Linked DNA regions of Homo sapiens: region 1 is linked to region 2. The links come from fine-mapping of genetic effects on gene expression. A gene starts in region 2. The other region holds a variant in brackets. All regions are shown on one strand. Distances are between the middles of the regions. Region 1 has its middle 20 kb from the start of PLSCR5-AS1. Region 2 holds the start of PLSCR1 (phospholipid scramblase 1).

Region 1 (5,387 bases), 24 kb after region 2:
CCTGGGCTGGCTTTGACTGACTGCAACTTTTCCAGGTGTATGGTGCAATGTGTCAGTGGATCTACTGTTCTGGGGTCTGGAGGACAGTGGCCCTCTTCTCACAGCTCCACTAGGCAGTGCCCCAGTGGGGATGCTGTGTGGGGGCTCCCACCCCGCATTTCCCTTCCACATTGCCCTAGCAGTGAGGGCTCCACTCTCGCAGCTGACTTCCACCTCAACATCCAGGCATTTATATACATCCTCTGAAATCTAAATGGAGGTTCCCAAACCTCAATTCTTGATTTCCATGTACCTGCAGGCCCAACACTGCGTGTAAGCCACCAAGACTTGGGGCTTGCACCCTCTGAAGCAACGGCCTGAGCTGTACGTTGGCCCCTTTTAGCCACAGCTGGGATGCAGGGAACCAAGTCCTGAGACTGCATAAAGCAGCAAGGCCCTGGCCCGGCCTATGGAAACCATTTCTTCATCCTAAGTCTCCTAGTTTGTAATGGGAAGGGCTGCCGTGAAGGCCTTTGTACTGCCCTGTAGACATTTTTCCCATTGTCTTGGTGATTAACATTTGGCTGCTTGTTATGTATGAGAATTTCTGCAGCTGGCTTGAATTTCTCCTCAGAAAATGGGTTTTCTATCACATTGTCAGGCTGCAAATGTTCTGAACTTTCATGATCTGCTTCTTTTTTAAACATAAGTTTCAATTCCAAACCATATCTTTGTGAGTGCATAAAACCAAATGCTTTTAACAGTACGCAAGTCACCTCTTTAACACTTTGCTGCTTAGAAATTTCTTCTACCAGATGGCCTAAATCATTTCTCTCAAGTTCAAAGTTCCACAGATCTCTAGGGCGGGGGCAAGATGCCACCTGTCTCTTTGCTAAAACATAGAGAGTCACCTTTGCTCCAGTTCCAACAAGTTTCTCATTTCCTTCTGAGGCCACATCAGCCTGGACCTTATTGCCCATATCACTATCATCATTTTGGTCAAAGCCATTCAACAAGTCTCTAGGAGGTTCCAAACTTTCCCACATTTTCGTGTCTTCTTTGGAGTCCTCCAAACTGTTCCAATCCTTGCCTGTTAACCAGTTCCAAAGTCACTTCCACATTTTTGGGTATTTTTACAGCAGCACCCCACTACCCTGTACCAATTTACTTATCAGTCTATTCTGATGCTGCTAATAAAGACATACCTTAGACTGGTATAAAGGAAATTTATAAAGGAAAGAGGTTTAATGGACTCACTGTTCCACATGACTGGGGAGGCCTCACAATCATGGCAGAAGATTAAAGAAGAGCAAAGGGACGTCTTACATGGTGGCAAGAAAGAGAGCTTGTGCAGGGGTACTTCTATTTATAAAACCATCAAATTTCATGAGACTTATTCACTACCAGAAGAACAGTATGAGGGAAACTGACCCCATTTTTCAATTATCTCCACCTGGCCCCACCCTTGACACATGAAAATTATTACAATTCAAGGTAAAATTTGGGTGGGGATACAGCCAAACCATTTCAATTATTGACACATGCAGTGCCATAGCTACCCCTATGTTATGGACATACATTTCTGTCAATTTATCTCGGTAAATGTTTGGCTTTCTAGGCAGTTGCCTGAGCTTGTAGTTACATAAAACTCCTGTTTGTTTGTTTGTTCATTTTACATGGAAAGTTGTAATGGATGATTGACATACTCTCCATTGTGAAATTTCAATGATGAATATTAGTCAAGTCTTTGATATTACAAGTATCTGCTTAAATTTTTCATCTGGTATACAATAAGACAATTGATGTTTATGGAAATTAATTATATCCAAAGCACAGTGTTCTTGACACCATGGGGAACAGACACAAAAATGGTTCTGAGTCAAATCCTGCCCAGAACGAGCTCACAGTCTAATAAAGAAAGTGCATCAGAGACAGAAAGTAAATAGCTGTAATACACAGTAGAATATGGTAATTTCATAATAAACTTACCATTACTTTTTTTTTTTGCATGAAGTGAATGGAGAAAGTAACACACACTGGACAAAAATTAGAGAACAATTTTGAGGCAGAAACTGTGTTGACATTAAAAGATAAAGTAAATCAGGCATGGTGGCTCATGCCTGTTCAGCACTTTGCGAGGCTTACTGAGAATCGGTTGAGGACAGGAGTTTGAGACCAGCCTGAGCAAGATACTGAGATCCCATTTCTACAAAAAAAAAAAAAAAAAAAAAAAAAAATTAGCAGGGTATACTGGCATGTGTCTATGGTCTCAGCTATTCAAGGAGGATGAGGTGGGAAGATT[T/A]CTTAAGCCCAGAATTCAGGGCTGCAATAAGCTGTAATCACACAACTGCCCTCCAGCATGGGTGACAGTGAGACCCTGCCTCAAAAATAAAAACAAAAACTAAATATGAAGAGCATTTGGGCAGGTAGAAAAATAGAAAAAAAATGTACTAAGGGAGAGGGAAAAGCATAAATGAATGCAGGAAAATCAGAGTGCCTCAAGCATAGTTAAATTTGAATAAAGTTAGTCAGGCTGAGATTTAAAATTAAGATGTAATTCTTTTTGCTTCAGAATTGAATTTGAAAGGTGTTATACTCGTATTTCAGCTTTTCAACATTGAGGTTTCACTGCCTCCCTCTCTTGTAGGCTAATACATGTGCAGGTTTGTTTTTGTTTTCTTGTTCTTGTAATTGTGCATAAATGTGTGAAGGGCAGGAATTAAAATCTGCATCCTGTGTGGTGATTTTTGATAATTCCTCAGCCCTCACAGCTGTTCAATTTGCAGTTTGAATAACGGAAACATTCCATCTTGCAAAGATATTTACATTTTGGTATTCTCTGGAAGCCACAACCAGGCATAAATACAGTGAGTGATGTGCCTATATAAACGTCTGTTGCATTCATAAATGCACATGGTGGACCCTATTTTGTGAGAACAAAGGGATAGAATTAAAAGTTGAATATCAAAAGTTGAAATATGTTTTACCTTCTACAATGAAAAAGAATCATAAGTCATACCAAAGAGTTTACTCTAAGAGTGACTCACTGTAAATCTTTTTATAATTATTGAATGCATGTTTTAAAAAATCCATTCTACTTTACTTATGGTATTTATTTTTGCAAAATCCATGTTATTTATAATACAAAGCAATACAATAATGTTTTTGTACATTCATCTCATGGAAAATTTGAATAGTTCATTCATAGTGGTTATTAAAGACTGTGGGTAAGAAGGAGATAACATTAATTTCCTATAGCTGGAAATGTTTTATAATATATATATATTTGATAGAATTTTTATTTGTTTCAGAAAAGTAATACTAATATCTAAGAAAACAGCTAGCAGTTTGTCAATTACTTGTGACAGTTTGTGAATCATTCATGTGGATTATACATTTACAATTTTTCTTTTCTTTCTTTTATAGTGTTATGAAATCAAACAAAAAATTAAGCTTCTGTTTTATTTTATTTTACCAATACACAAATCTGGCTCCTAATTCTTGTGCCAAAGTGCACAGTGACTGGTGCATTTATTAAGTATATGTAAGCAAAACAGTCAGCAACTGATTATACATTTGTTTATGTGAAATCTACATGTTTTGACTACTTTGTTTTGGTTAGTGATGTCTTCATTGCTGATATTTACCTTCTTTTGAGAATTAAAAGACATAATATTTAAAATGTGTGGATTATGCTTCTTATTAGAACTTATGTTAAAATATTTCCTGGAAAGGGAGTGAAAACTCTTAATTCAAATAGAAAATGAAAATTTTCTTTGGATTATTATATTAAATCATAGCCATTCCAGGAACGTAGTAATATGTTTATATTGCATGTGTAATTTACATTTCCTTTTATTTATTTTTCAGACCCTCTTGTCCTTCCTTAATGGATGTATTAATTTTTCAAATTCCTCAAAATACAGTAGAATTTTGTTTTTAAAATTTTTTTATGTTTTTTGATTTACATTTGTTTCTTCATTGGTCACCTATTTTTTGGTTGTCTTGGTTTTCTATGCTTCATATATGTAGTGGTTCTTAGTTCACTTATATTTAAGAATGGAAGACCGGTGACTCTTGTTATTTTTCTCTGTCGTATATGTCCATTTTTCTACTAGGTCTCTCCCACTAGTAGGACTAGGACTGGGAACCAAGGTAGAGACAGTGCTTATCACAATTAGGGTGAGCAGGTGAGGAGATCGCTCTTTGGATGCTAAAATGAGGAGAGTGCCATCCTTTGGCATGGGAAGCCATTCCAGAAACTTCAAAACCTTAGTTCTCCCTGTGCAATTAATTAAGATTCAATAAGAGTACTAATTTGGATTCCTGAAAGTATAATGCTGGGCTGCTTAGGCTTAGTGTTCATTGAGATAAGGAAGAGACTAGCAGTGAGGTTGGTGTGGGACACCTGACTAGCATATTTCATTATACAGACTTTCAATTAACTCTGTTTTGAGTTGTTCTTCGTACTCCCACCTTGCCTGGTATTGCTGTCTTTGAGCCAGGTAGCTCCCTGGGATAAGGACTTTTCTCCATCATAGACTGTTCACATGTGCACATTTAATCTGAATGATAGGCTCACATATTCCTCCATCTATCAGTGTTCCAATATGACTTGGAACTTCAGCCTAGAATTTATGAATATCTTTTTAAAAATATCCTGTGCTTGCTTTGGCAGCACATATACCAAAATTGGAACGATACAGAGAAGATTAGCATGGTCCCTGCACAAGGATGACACGAAAATTTGTGAGGTAAATTTGAGAGGTTGTTTTTTCTATCAGCATTTGCATTTGCTATAATTGTATTGTGGACTTAGGAGAGAGGAGAGACAAGTTATTTTCAGTGCGCCATTTTGAACTTTAAAAGGCACTTTCAGACACTTGGTTTTAAAAGATCAATCCAGGCCGGGCGCGGTGGCTTACGCCTGTAATCCCAGCACTTTGAGAGGCCTAGGAGGGTGGGTCATCAGGTCAGGAGATGGAGACCATCCTGGCCAACATGGTGAAACCCCATCTCTACTAAAATACAAAAAAAAAAAAAAAATACCCACAAAACAACAACAACAACAACAACAAAACAAAACTGTAGTCCCAGCAACTTGGGAGGCTGAGGCAGGAGAATCACTTGAACCCAGGAGGTGGAGGTTGCAGGGAGCTGAAATCACACCACTGCACTCCAGCCTGGTGTCTCAGGAGACTCCATCTCAAAAAAAAAGAAAAAAAAAAGATTAATCTAGCAATTATATGGAGAATGGACTGTAAGATGGAGAGGCTAGTGTCAGGGAGAATAAGCAGGCTTAGGAATAAGATAGTGACAGTTGTGAACACACAAGAAGAAATAATTTCTTCCCTTAGAATGACAGATACAATTTTAATGTAAATACAATATGTCAATATCCAGACTAC
Region 2 (5,387 bases):
ACCCCAGCCTAAATAGTAGGCTGGCTATAGTATCCAGGATTGTGTAAGTAAATTCTATGACGTTCTCACAACCACAAAATTGCCTCATGATGCATTTCTCAGAATGTATTCCTGTATTTAAGCAACACATGATTATGTTGGACTTCCTAGCCTCCAGAACTGTAAGAAATAAATTTCTGTCCTTTATAAATTACCAAGTCTCAGGTATTCTTTTACAGCAGCAGACAACATATGGAGACATCATTTTTTTCTAATCACTTCTTAAAAGAACATATGGAAAATTGAAGAGTGCAACTATTAAGTTCTGATTAAAAAGTGTTTTGGTTTTTTAATTTAGCACTATTCAGGGCAGTGCAATACAGTGTGTATATACACAGATACACATATATACACATAGAAATTCTTCCTATATAAATATTCACTAAATATAAAGCTTGTGTGGTTTTAAAGGAATTAATTGAAGGCATAGAGCATGCAAGGCACTATACCAGGCACTAGAGCACAATACCTAGACACTAGGGGAGACAGACAATTAAGAATTAAATATATTATTAAAAATACTCTAAGTGCTATAAATAAAATTAATGTTGCTATAAGAAAGGGTTATGGGGCACTAACTTAGATGGTGGTAGGGGGTTTAAGAAAAGTCAGACTAGGAGATGAAGGAAGTCTCAAATCAACTAGTCTATGGAGGTATGGTGGGTGGGGTGTTGGAGGGCATCATAGATAGAGGGAACTCCATAGGTAGAATTCCTGAGCTGGAGGAACGTCCCTCATTCAAGTAAAGGAAGACGAGTGAGGTTACAGAGCAAAAGAGGGAGACATTCTTAGAGATGAAGATGGAGAAGTACATAAGGGTCTGCTCACACACATCTGATGTCTCTCCACCTGTATGTACTCTAAGCTCCTTTACAGATCTAAAGGCAGTTTGATCTATAAACCAGCTATTTTACATGCCACTTTTCTATCCAATTGCATAAATCCACTCTTTCCCTTTATATGTCTTTTTCATTTCCCCGCATTTTCTCATTGTTCAAAGCCCTACTATTGTTGTAAACAGGGTGGCATTAAGACAAAGGTTTGCTCTTAGAAAAAGTTCAAGAAGGGAGCCCCCAAACTGTCTGACACGTTTAAGTGTCACTTGTAGTAACCATGTATCTCAATGTGATAAGCCAGAAAAAACAACGACTGCCTGTTCCTGGAACTGGGAAGTGGCCATGCCAAGACTTCCAGGAATAACAGTGCATGAATGAAACCACCTGGGAACCAGAGAATCAGCTTGGAGAAGCAGGAACTTTGTCAAATATTTAAAATAATAAGAGCTAACTTTCACTGAGTACTTTCTGTAGCGCCAGGCACTGCTCTAAGAATTTTACATTAATACTCTGTAGCTCATTTAATAGTTACACAATTTCAGAGATGAGGCAATGGAAAGAACATATATAAGAAGAAAGTGGCTGACAGTCCACAGACGTGAAGCAGTAGAGGCCGAATTTAAAGTCGGGGAGCCTGACTGGAGCTAATGGTCTTAGGAACCGTGCTAGATACCGCCACTATCTTTCCTAAGCTGGTATTGTAGAGGGCCTAGCATAGATGTGGGCTCCGGCGGACTTCATTGAATACTTACTGATAAATGACAGCTTGCAGGCTGTATTAACCATTCCTTCTAATAGCCCCACTACGCTGGCACATGCTCCTGAGCCCAGACTCTACCCAGGATTCAGGGCCGCTCTCTACCTGTAAAGCAGTGTAGCTAAGGGGAAGCTGAGCCCCGCAAGGCGTTTTCAGGCAGGGCACCCCTTGTCATTCGAATGGTTCTGGGGTGAGCCCGGGTGCCGCTGGGCCGCCTGGGGCCCCTTGCCGTGTACCTGCTCCACTTCCAGGGTCCCTTTCAGAGGCCTCTTGCATTTCTGGCCCCAACCTTCACCCCACATCCTCCACCCCCAGAGCAGCAAACACAACCTGCGGGCCCTCGCGCCGGTTCCCCACAAGTTGCCCTCCACACCTGACCCCGGCCCTGGCCCCAGCGCAGGCTCCGCGCAGTTCCCGCGCCCAAGTCCCCAGGAGGCGGCAGAGAAAGCCGCCCGCGCACCTCTGGCTGCCGCTGTTTCCGCTCCCGAGCGAGACAAGGTCCAGAGAGCCGGGGCCAGGCGATGGCTTCCTCTTCTGCGCCTCTAGACTGCCGGGCACAGCTGCTGCGCAACCTTCTCAGAAGTCAGCCGGAAAAGGGTCTGGGAGTAACCTTTGCGCCAACACCCGCGGCTCCTGGTTTCGTTTCCTGAATCTTACGTACACAACACGGTTTCCTTTTCCCGGTTCCCGCGCTGGCGCTCGGGGACCCACGAGACTACTGGAGGGTGAAGGAGCTGGAGGAGGGACTGCGCCCACCCCCTGGTGTGAGGCCCCTCCCCTACCCCCGACTTGCTTTCTTGCTCATTGGAGAGACTCCAGAGACGTTTGTCCGGTGGTTAAGGAGAGGAACTGGGACTCCGACACTAACTGGAACTGGAAAGTCATCAGCTGGGGAGTGGCCTCCCCCGGGAACTTTCTTTACTCTGGCTTTGACCTCCATCCCTCGGAAGCCCGTGGCTTTTCAAGGCGAGGGAGTAGAGGCAGCTTAAGACTACAAATGAGGAGGGGCCAAAATTGTTTTTCTTTATGGTGCCTTTTCTTTCTTGCTGTCTTGCTCTTTCTTTCCTTCTATTAAATTATGTGATATTACTTTTTAATTTTTAAGCAGTTATTTGAATGTTTTCGAGCTCACTTTATTTTTTTATAAATATTGTTCCTTTTTAAACTAAAATAGTTTTTATTCTGTGTATTTAAGTTATTTGTATGACATATCCATCAACTCCTATAATTACACATTTCCCCCCTTGGGGCAAGAGCAGCTATAATCTACTTATTTAGCATAAATCCTGAATACCACTATCATTAACTATAGCCCTCATGTTGTACATTAGGTCTTCCCATTTGTTCATCCTACGTGTTTGTAACTTTGTATACTTTTACCTAAATTTCCCCATTTCTCCTGACCCCACTCCAACCTGGATGACCCTGGATAAACCAGTGGTCCCCAACCTTTTTGGCACCAGGGACCAGTTTCACGGAAGAGGATTTTTCCATGGACCAGGGCCGGGTGGCAGACGGTTTCAGGATGATTCAAGCACATTACGTGTATTGCGCACTTTACTTCTATTATTATTACATTGTAATATATAATAAAATAATTATACAACTCACCATAATGTGGAATCAGTGGGAGCCCTGACCTTGTTTTCCTGCAATTAGAAGGTCCCATCTGGGAACGGTGGGAGACAGTGACACCAGAAGTGTGTTGCTTATGTCCAGTCTACTCCGTAATCTTGTTTTGGTTGCTGTCACTGCAGAAAATCCTGCTTCACAAAGATAGCATGTTGGAAATGGAAGCAGACTCTTCAGTGCTTTTGTGGCAATCTCAGGATATCCCACCTTGAGTTTAATCCAGAACATGGGATTTGAAGCTGTCTCAAACATACTTTTAAGGCCACCATCATTTGTGATCTCAAGCAATTGATCCTCTTCTAGTACGGACAAAATCGATTCACCTGACTTACTCACAAATGGGTCATGGATACATTCATTCCCAGTTCAGGGTTCTTTTGTGGTTGGGTAGTAATGCTCGAACTCTTTTGAAAGCTAAGATAGGTGATCATGCATCAGCTGAGAGAAAGAAGCTGCTGGCTCAGTCTTCTTCAAAATCTCTGCTAATGTTTGAAACATGTCAAAAATCTCAATGTTCATTCGTTGCCCCCATAATTCCAGTTTGGCTTTCAATGCAACCAATTTATCTGCTTCCTTGAACACAGTTGTCCTTCTCTCCTGAAGCGACAAGTTGAGTTCATAGATCGAGTTGAATACATCACACAAGTAAGCAAGTTTTGCAACCCTTTCTGTGTCACTGAAATGTGCCGCCAATGGTGACTGATTTTCTAAAATAAATCTCTGGAGCAGCTCTCATAATTCAAAAATTTCAGCCAGTGATCTACTTTTAGAAAGCCATCTCATTTCTGTGTATAAGAGAAGACATGCATGCCCAGTGTCCATCTCCTCACAGAGCTGCACAAACAGATGTGAGTTAAGAAAATGTACTTTAATGTGGTTGATTATTTTTGTCACATCCTGCAAAACATTGTTAAGTTCAGGTAACATTTTTCAGCTAGCCAGCATTTTTCTGTGGATGACACAGTGCATAGACTCACATTCTGGTCTCTTTGACCAGAGTAGTGAAACCAGAAAGCCATCCAGTCATGGCAGCCACTCCTTCCATGCATATACCTACACAAAATAACCAATTCAGTTTTCTTGATATGTAATCATTCAAAGACAAATAGTTCTTCAGCTGTGGTTTTGATTGGCAACAAAAATTCACATAATATATCCTTGTGCACATCTTCCTGAAAAATATATCACACACAAAAAAGCATTGTTGCTTTGTTGTCAATATCAGTAGACTCATCAACCTGGATTGCATACCAATTGCTAGAGAGGATTAATGGTGACTCATTAATCCTCTCTAACAATTGTACCTCGATATTCTCTGCTATTTCATCAATTCATCTAGTTATGGTGCTAGCCAGAAGAGGAATATGTGCTATTTTTTGAACTGCAGCCTCTCCTAAAAGTTCCCAACAAATGTCCTTAGCAGCAGGCAGGATCAATTCTTCACCAATAGTAAAGGGCTTCTTAGCTTTAGCAATGCAGTTAGCCACTATGAATGATGCTCTCAGTGCAGACACATTTGATGACATGGTGGCCTTCAATAATTGCTTCTATGTGTTCTTTGTGTTCATGGTTTCATGGTTTCTGTTTTTTTTTTAAACAAAACAAAACAAAAAACTCCAAAGGCTTGTCTTTTAATGCAGAGTGCTTGGTCTCCATGTGGCAAAGTAGTTTTGCAGGTTTCATGGCTTCATTGGGCAGTTGGTCACCACATATTATACAAAGCAGGATTGGAGAATGTGAACCACCTGTTGCAATGAACCTGTAATTTAAGTAGGACTCTTGGCATTTTCCTTTAAGTGCAGCTTTCTTTTTGTTAGCAGTCTTAGAGTCTTCTGTTATCTCACCTTTGGGTTTTTCCCCATTTTCAAAGAAGCTGTCCAGTGATGTTTGTTTTTCACTCACTTTGATGTTTTTAACAAAAACTTTTTTTTAACAAAAACCCTTGTTTTTCACAAGGGTTAGCTTGTGGGCTTAGCAAAACTGTGACTAAGACAAGTGCACAGTGTGGAAAAGAGGTGCAGATGGAAGTGGTAAAATAATGGGTGGGCCATGCACAGACTAAAATAAGTGTTGGATTCTGACTTAAAGCCTGCCACCAGATGCAACTGTACAATTGAAGTACA

What was found. PIP is the estimated chance that this variant, and not a neighbour inherited with it, causes the effect.
Region 1: its variant is the best candidate, but not a certain one, in a credible set for the expression of PLSCR1 in whole blood (TOPMed, PIP 0.52).

Annotation. Positions count from the first base shown.
Region 1 is chr3:146,566,836-146,572,222 of GRCh38, forward strand. It overlaps the pseudogene RNU6-428P. Among named protein-coding and RNA genes, the nearest start is that of PLSCR5-AS1, 20 kb to the right of the region's middle. The variant T/A (reference allele first, on the strand shown) is at 2,282.
Region 2 is chr3:146,542,375-146,547,761 of GRCh38, forward strand. PLSCR1 (phospholipid scramblase 1) reads right to left here and starts at 2,233. Exons shown (of 9, transcript NM_021105.3): 1 at 2,093-2,233. RefSeq lists an enhancer at 2,083-2,562.